2 separate regions of the Homo sapiens genome follow, and region 2 is linked to region 1. Evidence: fine-mapped expression QTL. A gene starts in region 1. The other region holds a variant in brackets. All regions are shown on one strand. Distances are between the middles of the regions. Region 1 holds the start of RPH3A (rabphilin 3A). Region 2 overlaps RPH3A (rabphilin 3A).

Region 1 (8,339 bases):
TCTATTAACCCCTTTTGGGGATGAAAATGTGGACATCTTTTGGGGCCATTATTTTGCCTACCACACTTGCTAAGTGAAATGGGCTATCTCAGTGCCCATTTCCTTGGGAGACAGAAAAGCACAGAGGACCTTGAGATAAACTGTTCAGATTCACACCCCATTCTCCCCCTCTTCCTGGCTGTGTTATCTTGGGCAAGTCACTTGAGCTCTCCATGTCTGATTTCCTCATCTTGAAAATGGGTAAATAGCACAACACAACCTCCTTTCACTGTTGTCAGTCATGAATAGTGCTGGGGAGATAAAGCATGGCACCTGGTAAATAGTAAGCACCTGCCCCCTGCAAAAGGAGAGATGATTAGGAATTAGGAATGCCAGATAGCATAATGATCATAAATTCACAGGGTCTTGGTTCAAATTCCAGTCTCACCACTTATGAACTCAATGGCCTCAGGCTAGTTGCTTTAGGAGTCTCAGTTTCATAGAACAGAAATGAAACCATTATCATCCTGAAATGGGATTGTTGGGAGGATGAGATGATGCCGCTGCACATATACAAATTGTGCAGGAGGTAGTGGGTAGCATTTGTTGCTGTAGCTATTACTACCTTCATCATTTCCCATCCTCTTTGGGGTGATGGAAAGTCTTACTGGGCTGCCTCTGCTCCATAAAACAAGGGTAGAGCAAGGCAGCTTGCTGAATTGCGGCCTGAGGAATCTTCGCAATGTTCTATCATTGAATGAAGCCTCGAGAGAGTCAGACCCTGGCCGGGCTCAGCCTTGAGAAGTCTGGGTTTTGAGGTGTCTCCCTGCTGCAGTGCCACAGGCTGGTGGAGTTTACAGCAGCAGCTGGTTCTTTGAACAAAGGGTTCTCCAGAAGCACCCGGGACAGAAGAGGGGTTTGGCAGTGGTGACCAGGGAGGTGGGCAGGATGGGGCAAGGTCCCCTGACAAGACAAGGCTAGTTCCTAGATGGCATGGTGACCAGAGAGGGTGGAGAGCTCAGGTTTCAACCATATTATTATTTTTTAATTTTGGTGCAAAATCCTTGTTTCAATGAAGGCTTGGGCAGATGCCCAGTATGCAAAACAGTTAAAAGCACCACTAACTGTTCTAGTTGAAACCAGAGTGGAGGGTCAGTTGAGGCCTCTTTTCATTTCCACAGGGGCCTCTAGGGGGCCTGGTTTAGGAAAAACTGACAGGGTCATGAAAACACAGGCTTTGGAGTCAGACAGACCTGAGATTTGCATCCCTGCCTCTGCTGCTCCCTGGTTGTGTGAGTTTGGGGGCTTCACATCATCTGTCTGCTTCTTGTCTGCAAATGGGGCAGTAATAGCACCCACTTCAGGTAGCTGTGAAGTGTGGGGATAATCACTGTAAAGTGCTTAGTACAATGCGTGACACATGGCAAGTGTCTAGGTATGCAGCAGGTGGTAGCTATTGTCATTCCCTAAGGGAGAGCTGAATTCATGAGAGGCCCTCCCAGAATACATGCCTAATGGCTGGGGAAGCTGTGAGAAATTCTTTGGGATTGGAAGCCAAGAGGCCTGGGAACTACTTGGGTTCTGATTCCACCACCAGCATCCTAAATGACTTTCATTTCTCCCTGGGCTTCTTGAATCACTCTTCAAATGTTTATTGAGGCAGCCAGGTGTGGTGGCTCACACCTGTAATCCCAGCACTTTGGGAGGTCGACGTGGGCAGGTCGCTTGAGGTCAGGAGTTCGAGACCAGCCTGACCAACATGGCGAAACCCCGTCTCTACTAAAAATACAAAAATTAGCCAGGCGTGGGGCGCATACCTGTAGTCCCAGCTATTTGCATGGTTGAGGCATGAGAACGTCTTGAATCCAGGAGGTGGAGGTTGCGGTTAGGCGAGATCTCACCACTGCACTCCAGCCTGTGTGACAGAGCAAGACTCTGTCTCAAATAAAACAAACGATATTGTTTATTGAGGGTTTCCTATGTGCCTGGGACTGCCCTAGGCAATAGACCACAGGTCCTGGCATCTGAAAGGCTTGCATTCTATACTCAACTCTGCTACTTCCTAGCTCTTTGATTATGGACAAGTCAATTCTCGTCTCTGGTCCCGAGTTTCTCCATCTGTAAATTGAGGACACTGAATTTATGTCACAGGATCATCCCAGAAAATATTCGATGAAAATTTTCCCCTCAAACTTGTAGAATGCATTTGAAATGAACTCTGAGAGACATCCTGGAGCATGTTCTTTGGAATCATACGACACTGAGTTTGAATGCTGTGTCTGTAACTTACTGTGAAGCCTTGAGCAAGGAATTTTATTTCTTGAGTCTAAGTTTTCTCATTTGCAAGATGGGAATAATACTAGTGTCCTGAAAGGGTCATGGTGAGGACTTCAGAAGATGATACATGTAAAGTTCCTAGCAGAAGAGCTGGCACATAGTAGGTTTTCAATAGCAGCCATCATTGCCACCACCACCACCACCACCATAATCATCACCATCAACATCATCAGCATAATCATTGTCAATCAACACCATCACTATAATCATCACTATGATTACCATCATGATGACAATTACTACCACCACCACCACCACCACCACTGAGGCAGGTGGTTCATTTGAGGCGAGGAGTTCAAGACCAGCTGGGGCAATATAGTGAGACCCATCTCTGCAAAAAAAAAAAAAAAAAAAAAATTAGCAGGGTATATTCGTGTGCACCTTGAGTCCTAGCTACTGGACAGGCTGGGGTGGGAGGATCACTTAAGCCCAGGAGTTCAAGGTTTCAGTGAGCTATGATTGCACCACTGCGCTCCAGCTTGGGTGACAGAGTGAGACACTGTCTTTTTCTTTTTTTTTTTGAGATGGAGTTTCACTCTCGTTGCCCAGGTTGGAGTGTAATGGTGCAACCTCGGCTCACTGCAGCCTCTGCCTTCCAGGTTCATGTGATTCTCCTGCCTCCACCTCCCGAGTAGCTGGGATTACAGGTGCACACCACCATGCCCAGCTATTTTTTTGTATTTTTAGTAGAGATGGGGTTTCACCATGTTGGCCAGGCTGATCTCGAACTCCTGACCTTAGGTAATCCACCTGCCTCGGCCTCCCAAAGTGCTGGGATTACAGGCATGAGCCACCGCGCCTGGCAGAGACACTGTCTTTAAAAAATTGTTTTTTAAATGAGCTCTAAATGTTCTCATTTTAACTCCTGGGTCTCATGGGGAGAAGTAAGTGACAAATGTAGTAGTTAACCCTGGGCCATCTGGATGGGAAGCTTTAGATATGAGTCTCCAATAGAGAGAGTTCTCCTTCACTTTGCAGAGAAGTTCTAAGCAGATCTTGGTCTGTTTGAGATTTCCTGGCCTTTTTCCAATTTGAGCCCTTTCCCAAAGTTAGGAGGAATAGGACTCTTGAGATATGGAGCACTGGGAGCCATGGGAATCCATTCATCTTTATATATTTCCCCTTTTGATACTTTTATTTCATTGTCCATATAGTGAATTCACTTCAGAAAGCCAGTCTGGATCTTTCGGGGAAGGCTCTTTGGCCAAGGCTCAATGGTCTGATTTAGACCTAAAATTTCCCTTCATTCTACTCAAACCACCTGCTGAAGGGTGAGGTTGGCACATGCCATCCTAGCTGGGCTGTCAATTCCTTTATCACTCTGTCCAAACATTTGTGTTTTAGGACAGGTTATGGACCATGAAATCATGGCAGTTCACAGCTTGGGTATTCTTATTGTTGCATTTTAACCTCTTGCTTCCTATCTTTAGGAAAAATAAGGTCATTATGTTATCATTTTCACAGATGGGACTTGGAAACATTAAATGACTTTTCCAGAGTTGTAAGGGGGCTGGATCTGACTTCCAGAAAACCATCAAGTGCTTATTCAACTAAGCCACCCTGCCCCTTAGAAATTTCCATTTCTTAAGCCTCAGCTTTTCTGCTCTGAATTCTGAGAAACTCCAGGTACAGGTCAAAAATCTGCAGCAATGGGGGTGAGGACAGGTCATCTGGGCGAAACTTTGAGGGGCAAAACCACTTAGGGAGCCCCCCACACCGGTGCCAAGCTCTTGTCTGAGCAGAGAGGAGCAATGCAGGACTGGGGGCGTGTGGGAGACAGGGGCTGTGAAGTTATAGTTCCTTTGCTCTGAGAGTGAGCGACAGTATTAGAAAAAGTGTGTGGTAGGTAAGCTGTCACTGACTAGACTGTGTGATGTCGAGAAGTCCCGTCCCCCACCCCTCCGGACTCCCCCCTTCTCTGCTTTAACCATCCAATTACTTAACTTCTCTGCCTAGGGGTTCGCTTCCCACCCATCCCCTCCTCCAAGGCATCTTAGCGCTGTCCGTGGTGCTGACCGCCAATCCCCTGGTTGCCGTTTCGACCAGCTGGGATCTCTGGTGCGCCCAACCTCCCCTCCCGGCCTCCCACCTTTCTTTCTCCAGGCACCGCACACATAAATCACGGGTGGGAGGCAGGCTTGGTTCCCGCTTGGTTCCCCCTGCACTGGGAAGCTGCCGCCCCGCTTCCCTTGCTCACACAGGGCTTTGCAGTAGTGGTGGCAGCCGCGGCAGAAACTGGCTCTGGGGAAGCAATTGATTCGTCTACTGCCAGCAGCCCGGAGTTGCCTACGCGGACTGGAAAGGAAGGGAGAAGGGAGAGAGAGAGAGAGAGAGAGAGAGAGAGAGAGAGAGACTCACAGAGCTAAAACCTTCATCCATGTGGAGGACAGTCTGAGGGAGCCACTGTCCCTTGTCCACTGACTCACTGGCTGGTCCGAGTTTTCTCCGCTTCTGGCAGTGGTATTTCTTTTTGTCTTGGTCCTGCATGATTTAGGGGTAGTTGATGTGTCTGTGTGTCTACGTGTGTGCACTGGTGCTTTGATTTTATTTTGGGAAGAGTAGGAGAGTCAAATGAACAATTTTCTTTCAGGCACCTCCGCTGAGCTTTTAAACCAAGTCATTGGGACTTAGCGTCTTTCTACCCGGCAGGGAAGGGAGGAGTTGGCAAGAATTTGGCTCACCCATTCCCCCTGCAAGCCTCCAGCGTCGCGGTAAGTGATATTCTCCCGGGTTGTGCAGATGGGCTAGGGGTGTTGGAATCCCAATTGTGATGTGTGTTCATGAGCTGGTGGGGTAAAGGGTAGTTGGGAGGAGAAGGGTATCGAGGAACGACTATGCTTATTTGCCTACATCCTGCAGTGTTTTATCACCTAAGCGGCATCCCAAAGCCAAATGAGATTTTGGCTTAGTGCCCAGGGAGGGGGTAAAATGTGCTCATGTTGTAGGCAATGCGATCAAGATTGTGGCTTCTGCCCAATTTGCCCTCTCCTTTGCAGCAGAAGCTGGTGAAAGTAGCCGGCAGTTCTCTGAGAGAGTTAACCCTTCGTGGGGCTGGCTAGTCTAGCATGGAGGGACTCTGGGTACTCTGACTTAGCAAGTGAGTGCTTATCCCTGGAGGGGAGGGGGTCACCTGAGACTGGAAGGGTAACTTTTGCCTGGGCACACTGGGTAAGATTTGCACAGGACAGAGCTTAGATTGTACCCTCTTCTAGGAACAGCTGAGTAATTTAATTGTGGTGATTTTTGCGAGGTTGGCTGTTCACGCTTTCCTGAGATGGAAGACCTGGGAGCCAGGAAAGGGCCACACTATGCCTGGGATGAGTGGTCAGGCTGGCCAGAAGGGAGCAGCCACTGCCTGCAGAGGAGATGATGTTTTATTTTCACAGGTGGCGTAACCTGTAAGTGATTGTATGGGGGAGCGTCCTGGCACTAGCTTGGGAGATTCTATCCTTGAGTTCATCTCAGAAGGAAGGAGGGGAACAAAGCTTGTTCAAATTCTGGGGAAAGATTCCAGGCTTCAGCTTCAGTTTTGTTCCAGGGTAGACCGTCCCCCTGCACTAGTTTCTTTTTCCAAGATCCTGATGGGGAAAGGCTGCACCAACCTGTTAGTGAGTGGGAAGTGGAAGTACCTTGAAATTGAATCCAAAAGCTCACATTTAATTTTGAAATGCTTTTGATGCTAATCTGCTACCCATCAAAAGGGGATTTCACTTTGCTTTCTGCTTTGATTACATCTACTTTTCTGGAAATGAATGCCCTTGTTTTTAGCATTTTTGCTATTATCTCAGGGGCCACCTCAGTGTTCTGCACCCCCAAGGATTTCCTTTTTAGATTCTTGCTCTTGGAGGTGGGAGGAATAAAACAACAGTCAGAGATTGGCAAGCCTGAAATATAAGCAGGGTTCACTCATTCTTTTTTTCTCTAGCCCCATAGCTAAGAAGAGATGCTGAAATCCCACAGCATGTGCCTGCTCAGGCAGGACATATGAGGCAGAAGAGGAGGGTTGTCTGGTGGTTAGTGTCAAAGATTTGGTTCTCAAAATCCCTAACTTCTCTTCCTAGCTTCTCTTGCTGGGTGACCTTGAGGAGGAAGTTGCCTTAGATTCCTCACTGGGAAGACTTGAGTGTGAATAATGAATGTGTGGAAATTTTGTTCAAAAAAAGAACCACATATCTGGCTATGGGTGATATTTAAAGTATTGAAATTTGGTACTAATCGATCAGAATGGCTAGGGTCCTGGAATAGGGCATCTTAGGGGGCCCCTGCTGTACTGAGTGTTAATCTTTTAATTGCTGGATTATGGAGAGGTTTGGGGGGATCTTAGGGGGCTATCAAGAGAGCCACGAGGCCTCAGGGCAGCATCCCCATTTAATTTTAATATTTATATTTTATTTTAATATTTTTAACAACTGGTTTAGCCATGCAGTACAGGCCAGCCCAGCTGGGATAGCTAATACTTGGGTGTCCAGATGTGGACACTTCCCAAATATCTCTCCACTGGGTCACTTCCTTAGGGATGGCCAAGATCCAAGAGGCCGCCCTCCCTCCTCCCCCATCACATTTGAAGTGGTGCATTGTGGTGCACCAGGGAAAGGGAAAGAGAAGCTTCTGGAAAGAGCCTTGGACTTGGGTCAGGAGACCTGGGTTCCAGTCCCAGCTGTCTCCCCTTTCTGGGCCTCAGCTTCCCCATCTATGCAATGGGGCAGTCTGTCTGGGTGGCCCTAAGTCCCCTTCAAGTTCTGGGGTTCTCTGACTATGAGATAGGTATGTGTGTGAGTGTGAGTGACTGCACATGCCCACATTTCTAGGAAGGGTTAGCACTGTGCTTGAGAATTTATCCTGTGTCGGGGAGAGGCCCTGTTTGGGGTGATTGGGGATAGGGGAGTCTCTTGTGAGAACTTTGCTAGGTTTCTAGAATCCTGAGCTCAGCTGGAAAGGGGTCTGCTTTATTTATGGCCTCAGATGCACAGAGATGTAGATTTTGCAGCACTTGAAGGCTCCAAAGAGACTCTTCTCAGGAGTAGCAGCAAGGACTCCTTGGAGAGGCTCTGCTCTGAAAAGATGCATATACACACAAACACACAACATCAGGGGGTTAGTGGATCCTCAATAATGCCCATGTGAGCACCCCCCCAAGTTCAGGACCTCTGATTTAGTCTAACCCTTTCCAGGGGGGCCCAGAGAGGAAAAACAATTTGCCCAAGACCACACAGTAAGTTATGGCAGCAACATATAAACCCACCATTATGAAGACCAAGGCATCATCCCCTCACTCCTGGCTCCAGCAGCCCCTACTCCCCCAGTCCAGCCTGAGGTACAGAGGAAGGATGTTCAGCAGTGTCTCTCCAGCCCGTGCTGGTAATCAGGAAGCTTAGCCATGGAGACAAATGTGGACATTTCCTTTCTTGTTGGCAGGAGAGAGGCAGCAGACAGAGATTCTGTGATTCCACAGGGGTAGCCTGGAAAGTCAGTGCCCCCAGCCTACTCTGCCTTTCTCCTTCTTATTGCTCCGTACACAGACTGGCTGCTTTGTCTGAAGATGTGCATTTGGTTGGGGTGGCTGCTCTTGGGCTTTCTTTGTAGGCTGTGACATTATGCTTTAACTCTTTCCCTCTCTGTGAATGGGTCCTACAGAGTTTATGGCTTTCCAATAAAAACCACCATGACACATGGACCTGTCTTCTGCCCTTCACCCTCATTCAGTGGGGAGCTGATTGTAATTGCAGATAAGCCAGGAATTGATGTGAAGCCAATGAGAAGAAAACAGTGTGGTTTATTTCTGTTAAGAGCTGTGGCCATAATCTGGGATAAAAATAATTCTGGGACCCAGTCATGGTGGGCTGAAGCTGATGATTTTAAATAATTCAGCTGCCACCCAGGATGGAGAGCCTTGATGTGCTGAAAGAGTGAAGGAGGTACTGCAGAAATAGCCCCCTTCTTTCTGTGCCTCACACCTATCTACCTTCTTAACCAGCCAGGGGCTGCAGTGTGGGCTCTGGGGGCGGTCAGATCTTAGTTCTAAT
Region 2 (8,339 bases), 96 kb after region 1:
TAGGTGTCTCTGTCCATCTCTCTCGGGCTCTAGTCCAACAAGCTTCGTACAAAAACTCTGCGGAATACCCGGAACCCCATCTGGAATGAGACCCTCGTGTATCACGGCATCACCGATGAGGACATGCAAAGGAAGACCCTCAGGTACCTGGCAGGCAGAGGGCAGAGAGGGAGGCAAAGGGGAGACTCGGGGTGGGTGGAACTGAGACTTGGGGTGAGGCCCCCAGGGCTTCACTCTAAAAAGATCTCTACATAGTTTATTTTTTTCCTTCTTGTTTACTTTTACCAAAAAATGATATATATATTTGGTAGAACTTTTGGAAAATACAGATAAGTTGAAACTGTTTACTGTTAACATCTTGGTATCTGTTCGTTCAGGGGGTGTGTGTTGGGGGATGGTGCGTGTGTGGGTGTGTATGTAAAAGTTTTTTCCTAATAAAATTGAGTGCTTATAAAAATGTTTATTACAATAGATCATCTCATTAGTACATCTGTATCACTTAAGAATACACTGATGCCATTTCACATTCTTCTACAGTGTTGAATTATTAGGCTGGTGTGAAAGTAATTGCAGTTTTTGCCATTAGAAGTAATGGATATATATATATATCCACTTTTATTTATCCAGTTTTATTTATCCAGTTTACTGTTGATGTATTTGGGTGGTTTCTAGTTTGGGGCTATTACAAATAGTGCTGCTAGGAACATTCTAGTAGCTGTTTCTAGGTGCACAGGTGCACTTATTTCCATATATATATATATGTATGGAACTTGCCTTTTTTTCTTAACAATATATCTCAGTATTACAGCCATGAAAAGACATTTAAATCTACCTAATTTTTAACTGCCTCAGAATATTCCACAGAATGGATTTATCACAGATTTTTTTAAATGTTCTTATCCTTAAATATTACAAATGAATAGAAAAGTGTAGAATATACTAAAACAAACATCCATGAACCCACCCGATACTTGATCTGTTAAAAATCTTGCTATTTTGCTGTGTTTGCGTCAGCTCTTTTTTAAGAAATAAAGCACCCCCGATGCAAGTTGAAGCTCCTTTTGTATATTCTATCTCCCACCCTGTCCTGTCCTCTTCCTTCTCTCCCAAGAGCTAGACACCATCCTGAATTCTTTGGGTATCATTCTCAAGTATGTCTTATACTTCATAATTATGTATCTATAAACAATGTACAGCATTGTTTGGCATGTTTTAAATTTTTGTGTAAATGTTTACCAGTTTATTTAGCCAATTCCCTTTGGGTGGACATTTAAATTGTTTTCAGCTTTTTTCTATTACAAACAAAGTTGCAATGAGCAACTTTATTCTTCCTTGTGTACATATGAGTGTTTCCTTAGGACAGAAACCAAAGAGAATTATTACTGGATCATGGGATATGTGATGTTTTCCAAAACAATTTTACAAGACATGCAAACTGCTTTCCCAATTGGCTGCAACATTATTCTAAGTAAATATTTTTATTGCGGCATAACATTCATTTAGCAAAATGCACATATAAATGCACAGATTGATGAATTTTCACAATAGTGAACATACTGGGCTTAAGGAATGGAACATTCCTAGACTGCAGAAGACCCCCACTGTGGCCCCTTCTTATTGAATGCTCCCCTGGGGTATTCAATATCCTAACATCTTACAGGACAAGTTAATTTTGTCTGTTTTTGTACTTTATATAAATGAAATTTTATTGTGTGGCTCTTTTGTATCTATATTCTTTCATTTAACATTTTACATGTGTATTCATCTAAGTTGTGTGTAGTTGTAGATCATTCTTGTTGCTATTTAGTATTTTATTGCAGGAATATAATGCAGTTTTATTTATCCAGTTTACTGTTGATGTATTTGGGTGGTTTCTAGTTTGGGGCTATTACAAATAGTGCTGCTAGGAACATTCTAGTAGCTGTTTCTAGGTGCACAGGTGCACTTATTTCTGTTGCATATATACCTAGAAGTGTAATGATTGAGCCATAAGATATGGGTACGTCCAGCTTTAATAGAAACTGCCAGTTTTCCATAGTGGCTGTGCCAGTGTGCACTCCTATCAGCCATGCATGGGAGTTCCAGTTGCTTCACAGCCTCATCAACACTTTTTCATTTTGGCCATTCTGGTAGGTGTGCACTGGTGTTGCGTTGTGGTTCCAAATTTCCCTGATGACTAAGTACAACACTTTCTCTAATGTACACTATTACATTTTGTGGTTATTTCATAATTTTCTTAAGCAGTTCCTCCATTGTACAGTATTTGTTATTTCTGCTTTTTTCATAGTTATAAACAATATTGTGACAAACATCTTTGTAGTTAAATATATTTCTAATTTTTTGAGGGTACATAGTAGGTGTATATATTAATATTCATGAGGTATATAGGATAATTTGATACAGGTATACAGTGTGTAATAATCGCATCATGAGTTTTTTAAATGGGTTAAAATAAATGTCTTTTTTAATCACCTCAAGCATTTATCCCTGTGTTATAAACAATCAAATTATACTCTTTTCACTATTTTTAAATGTACAATTAAATTATTATGGACTATAGTCACCCTGTTGTGCTATCAAATATTAGATCTCATTTATTCCTTCTAACTATTTTTTGGACCCATTGTAGTTAAATATTTTTGTACTTGCCTTATGATATATTTGAGGTAAATTCCTATAAGTGGTGCTACAGGGTCAAAAACAGTGATTATTCTCTTATGTCTTTGGAGATGCGTTGCCCTGAAGAAGGATGATATTGTTCACACCCCAACCAGCTCAGTAGAGACAAGTTTTTTCTCCAGTGTTAGACAGTGCAGGACTCAGCTATGAGGGTGTTTGGGCCCTCCAGGACTTTGAACATTTGTTCAACTAATGTTGGTGGCCAAGGAGTGCGGTACTTTTACAGTCCCTTCCTGTCCCCCAAGAATGCCTCCCATGCCTTGCAGGACAATAAGCCCTTTCCTCTCTTAGTGTTTGTCAGGATGAATTATCATGCCGTGACTGGTCCTTTTGGTCTCCTATGGCAGCAGTTCCCAATCTTTCTGGCACCAGGGAACAGTTTTGTGGAAGACAGTTTTTCCATGAACTGGGGTAGGGAGAAGGATGGTTACAGGATGAAACTGTTCCACCTTGGATCATCAGGCATTAGATTTTCATAAGGAGCGTGCAAACTAGATCCCTCACATGTGCAGTTCACAATAGGGTTTATGCTTCTGTAAGAATCTAATGCTGCCACTGATCTGACAGGAGGCGGAGCTGAAGTGGTAATGCTTGCTCACCTGCTGCTCACCTCCTCCTGTGCAGCCAGGTTCCTAACAGGCCACAGACTGGTACTGGTCCATGGCCTGAGGGTTGGAGACTCTTGTCCTAAGGGACATTTCTTATGACCTGCCTTTTTTGTGCCACTGTTACTCAATGCTGTGTAAGGTAGATAACAAAAGGCAATATATTACTATAGGATTCAGGGAGACCTGGATTCAAACCCTGGTTCTACCTCTTATTAGGGAAAAATTATTTAATCTTTCTGGGCCCCAGTATCTTCTCTAAATGGTAAATGCAGTTGTTTTGAAATAGGAAAAATTAAATGAGAAAAGTTCCTAGCCTGACTTTGCAAAAGAGGATGCTCAAATGGCCATAAAGTATATGAGAAGGGGCTCAACTGTTTTAATCATCAG[G/A]GAAATGTAAATTAAAACTAGTGACATACTATGACCCATCCAGAAAGGCTAAAATTAGAGACTGACATAATTGAAGTCAAAGAGAATAAAGAGTGACCAGAACCTTTATAAACTGCTGGTAGGGACATAATTGGTGGAACTGCCTTGGAAAACTGTTTTGAAGTTTCTACTGAAGCTAAACTTATGCCTAGTCCATGGCCAGCAACCCTACTCCTAGGAAAATACTCAATAGAAATATGTACATGTATATCCGAAAGACATGAACATAAATATTCCATAGCAGCGTTATTCATAATAACTCAAAACTAGAAACAACCTGTATCAACAGCAGAATTATTATGGTACATTTACACAGTGGAATACTATGCAGCAATAAAAAGGATAAGTTATACTGTGCATGGATGCATCTCACAGACATAATCTTGAGCAAGAGAAGCCAACATAAAAGAGTCTATATTATATGATTCCATTTATATGAAGGTCAAAAACCAGACAAATGACTTCATGTGGCCAGAGGCAAAAGAGTGGCTATCTTTGAGACAGGCAGTGACTAGAAAGGATCCTGAGGATCTTTCAGTCTCTGGAATGTTTTATATCTTGACCTGGGTGGGAATTACATGGGTATATACAAATGCAAGGGTTCATCAAGCTATAAACTAAATTTATGTGCTTTACTGCATGTCAGTTATACTGCAATAAAGAAGAAGTTAAAGGTACTTGGTCCAGTGATAAATAAACAGGAAATCATATTATTTCCACATACATTACACATTCCTTACCAGTATCAGCTGCAACTCTTGGCACACAGTGGTGTCTTAATATTTGTTCCTGTTTCTCTCTCTACCCCCTTGTGTTGGTGGCAGGATCTCCGTCTGTGATGAGGACAAATTTGGCCACAATGAATTTATTGGTGAGACCAGATTCTCCCTCAAGAAACTGAAGCCCAACCAGAGGAAGAATTTCAACATCTGCCTGGAGCGAGTGATTCCTGTGAGTGACTTTACCCTGAGGATCTGATGGGAGGAGGGGAGATTGGGGGAGCTGCCTTCCTCTGGGTCTGAATTGGGGGAAATAGATCCACGGGGTATTGGGTAGCAGAGGCACTGCAGCAGGTCTGCAGAGGAGAGTCAAGATTCCAGCTCACAACCTCAGGCTGCATTCTCTCTCTGCCTTTCACAAACCCTGTGTCAGCATCACTTCGAACATGAGTTCTTCTTGGCCAAACTGGATGGACAGCATGGCAGGGGCAGCATGGGCTTCCTGGGTTCAGAGCCAGCTCTGCCACTTGCTGCTCCATGGCCTTGGCCAAGGGGCTGAACCACTCCGAGCCTCGGTGTTCTTGTCTGTAATGTGGGTGTTATAACAGTACCTGCCTCTTGGGAGGGTTGTGTTTTAAAAAATAACATAATCAAAATAGAACTTAATGCATAGTAAGCACTCATAAATTAACAGTTGTTAGTGTAGGAAATATTGCTGCCTTACCCACCTGTCAGTCATGAAGTCAGAAAGCACCATGTAGATAAACAGCAGACAGCATAGCCTAGAGTTTAAGAGTATGGGCTCTGCAGCCAGACTCTCGGGTGTGAATCCTGGCTCTGCCACTTAGGGTATAACCTGAGGCAAATTATTTAATTTCTCTGGGCCTCAGATGTCTCATCTGTAAAATGGGATACTGTAGTACTAACCTCATAGGATCTTTTAAGGATTGAATGTGATAATACATATGAAGTATTAGAACTGTCATTGTTGTTGTCAGATGTGATTCTTGCTCTTTGAGAAAATAGCAAGGATCAAAGTGAGGTTCTGCAATGGGGTTGCACCTCAGAATTAACCGGGGGATTCTAAAACCAGAGCTTTACAAGCTAAGATTTGTGGGGGTCTCCCCTGGAGATTCTGTTTTAGTGGGGTAGGGTAGGACTCAACAATCTATATTTTTAGAGATAATTCAGGCTGCCTTGCCTTACGTATGGGCCAACTTGGGCCCAGAAAGGGTAGCAAGTCTCCAAGGTCTCTGGGCACTGGCCAGAGTCCAGCTCTCCTACAACACCAGCACCCCTGGTCTCTCTGGGCAGCCTGCCTGCTCTCCACAGGGAAGCTATGGGGTGCAGGAGCATCTTCCCACCAGATGGCCAGCCTGAGGATGGAATGTCTGCATGCCATGCCATAGTTTTATAGTTCAGGCAAAGGAACAAGACCAAACAAGGAAAATTTCAAGGAAGGATTTCCACTGAATTCCAGGCTCAGAATAAATCCTTAAAGACATCCCTAGGAATGAGGCCCTTCTTCTGGGCTTTTGCCTGGTGACAGCTGGGTCTTCAGGCTTCTCTTCCTTCTCCAACTCCGTGAGTCCAGTTGGCCAGGACAATGGCCAGGCCCTTGCCTGTGTCATCAGCCTTTGGGTCTTCCCATCTTGCTATGGTGAATGCAGCCAGCCCCAGAGACATGGAGGTGCAGGACACCCAGAGGGCTGCAGCAGCCGCAGAACACTACTGATCATCTTCTTTTGCTCTTTGCCATTAAACCTTAACCCTTGCACCACGAACTTCCCCCATTATGTCCCACTGAGGGCCCCTCCCCTCTGGACCTCAGGTTTCCTCCTCTCCAAAGTGGGGAGGTTGGATTTAACCAATGGTTTTCTAACTCTGTTTCCCAGAGCCTAGAGTTCAGCAAAAGGGCCCCAGGGGCCATGAAGGCAAAAGCACCTGGTGGGTCAGACCCCAAGACCCCTGAGCCACTTCAACCAGAGAAAATGAAATCTTGTCTGTTTGTGTGTGGAATGCTCTGACACTTATTGGCTGTGTGACCTTGGGTAAGGGGCTTAACTACTCGGACCCTCAGCATCCTCATTTGTAAAATTGGAATTGTAACAGAACCTATATCATAGGTTGTTACACATTCACATAGCTTGCCATATGGCTAAGTTTTATAAATTTTAGCTAAAAGGGAGAATGCAGGAGAGCCACAGTAGCTTAAGAACCCACTTTCATGGCTCTGGATGGTAATGGAAGTATGAGGGGTTTCTGGTCCTTCTTGCGCAGGAAGATGAGCTCCATAGACAATGTTATCTTTTATTTGTTTTCTTCTTTTAAGATGAAACGTGCTGGGACCACCGGGTCAGCCCGAGGCATGGCCCTTTATGAGGAAGAGGTGAGCACTGAGCAGGAATTGAAGCCACAGTCAGGGTCTGTACTGGGCTAGGCTAGCATCTTCCTCTTCTCTCCCTCCCTGGCCCCTTCCTCATCCATTCTCTTCCAACCACCCCCCTGTTGATTTGCCTTGAGAACAACCCTTTGCCCACAAGTGATGTCCTCTCCACACCTAAGCCTCTGAGGAGGGGGAAGCCCCTTTCTCTCATACCCAGGATGCCCACCAGGTTTTTGGCCTTGTTGTCAGAAGCTTTGTTGACAATTCTACTGACTAGGGCAATGGCACACTCCTTTCTTGGAGTAGATGCATTCTTTGAGCTGTGTGCATGGCAGAAACTGAACTAAGCCTTCATGCTGTCTGCCTGGGTCCCTCATATGACCCCAAGGACTGCCCTTTAAGAATACTGGTTGTGTTAAGGGAGTCTGAGATCAGAGGCAAGAATCTGTCTGGGGCCAGGGTCAAGGCTCAGTCCTGGGTTAGAGCCAAAGCCAATCAGTGACCCGGAGCAAGTTTAGTCTGTGCTCACAGTCAGAGTCTGTTTATGTCTAAGTCAAAGGGAAGCCATTGGTCCCCATGTGCCTGAGACTGGTCCTCAACTTTCACCTTTGGCTCCTCTTTGGAGGCTAAGCCATCTGCTGTCCCTGGTACTGGCTCCCTAGAGCTGGCCAAGCTTCGCCTGCCCTTCATAGGTTCTTCCCTAATGCTCGCCATTCACATTTCCTGGCCCCCTCCCCTCCAAGGCCCACACTGCCTTTTCCCCCAATGCAGCAGGTGGAGCGTGTTGGTGACATCGAGGAGCGTGGCAAGATCCTGGTCTCCCTCATGTACAGCACACAGCAGGGAGGCCTCATTGTGGGCATCATACGCTGCGTGCACCTGGCTGCCATGGACGCTAATGGCTACTCAGACCCATTCGTCAAGCTGTAAGTCAATGCCTTGGGGCTACAGGTGGGCCCTGAAGGAGTCCTGGAGCCTTGGAAAAGGAGAACCAGACAGTTTCACCAAGATCGTTGTACACTGAGACCCAGAGAGGGCAAGGAACCTGCCCAAGGTCACAGTGAAACAAATGCCTACAACTGGCAAGAATGTGGGTCTGGAGTCTCAGGCAGTCAAACTGGTGTGTCACTTGCCCACAGGCAAAGCTCTGTGGCTCTGTCCTCTTGAGGGCCTGCTGATGGCTCTGCAACTAAGCTAATTAGTTATAGTAGCCCCATTTGTACTCCCAGGAGTTGGCCGCACACCCCTCGGACCGCTCAGACCTCCACCACCAAAGAGGCCATCTGGCATTTTCCAGATTCATTCTGGAAATGCTCAGAAAAAAAACATGCCTTCAGTCTGGGGTCTGTTCCAGCAATCTCATCATGGAGAATAAAAGGGACTCTGTTATCTGTGTTAGTCCAGATCCTCTGAGAAGAAGATGCCAAAATAGGATTAAGCAGACAAGGGGTTTATCAGGGGAAATGCCCATTCCAGGAAGTCTGCAGGGAGTCAGGGGAGAAAGGGAGAGATGTTAGACTA

Evidence for each region. PIP is the estimated chance that this variant, and not a neighbour inherited with it, causes the effect.
Region 2: its variant is fine-mapped to the expression of RPH3A in blood mononuclear cells (TOPMed, PIP above 0.99). The same link has a PIP of 0.9 or more in monocytes.

What each region holds. Positions count from the first base shown.
Region 1 is chr12:112,787,237-112,795,575 of GRCh38, forward strand. RPH3A (rabphilin 3A) reads left to right here and starts at 4,512. Exons shown (of 22, transcript NM_001143854.2): 1 at 4,512-4,776; 2 at 4,907-5,027. RefSeq lists an enhancer at 4,604-5,145.
Region 2 is chr12:112,883,260-112,891,598 of GRCh38, forward strand. It overlaps RPH3A (rabphilin 3A), which reads left to right. Exons shown (of 22, transcript NM_001143854.2): 16 at 34-143; 17 at 4,538-4,664; 18 at 6,765-6,821; 19 at 7,590-7,744. Among named protein-coding and RNA genes, the nearest start is that of OAS1, 20 kb to the right of the region's middle. The variant G/A (reference allele first, on the strand shown) is at 3,675.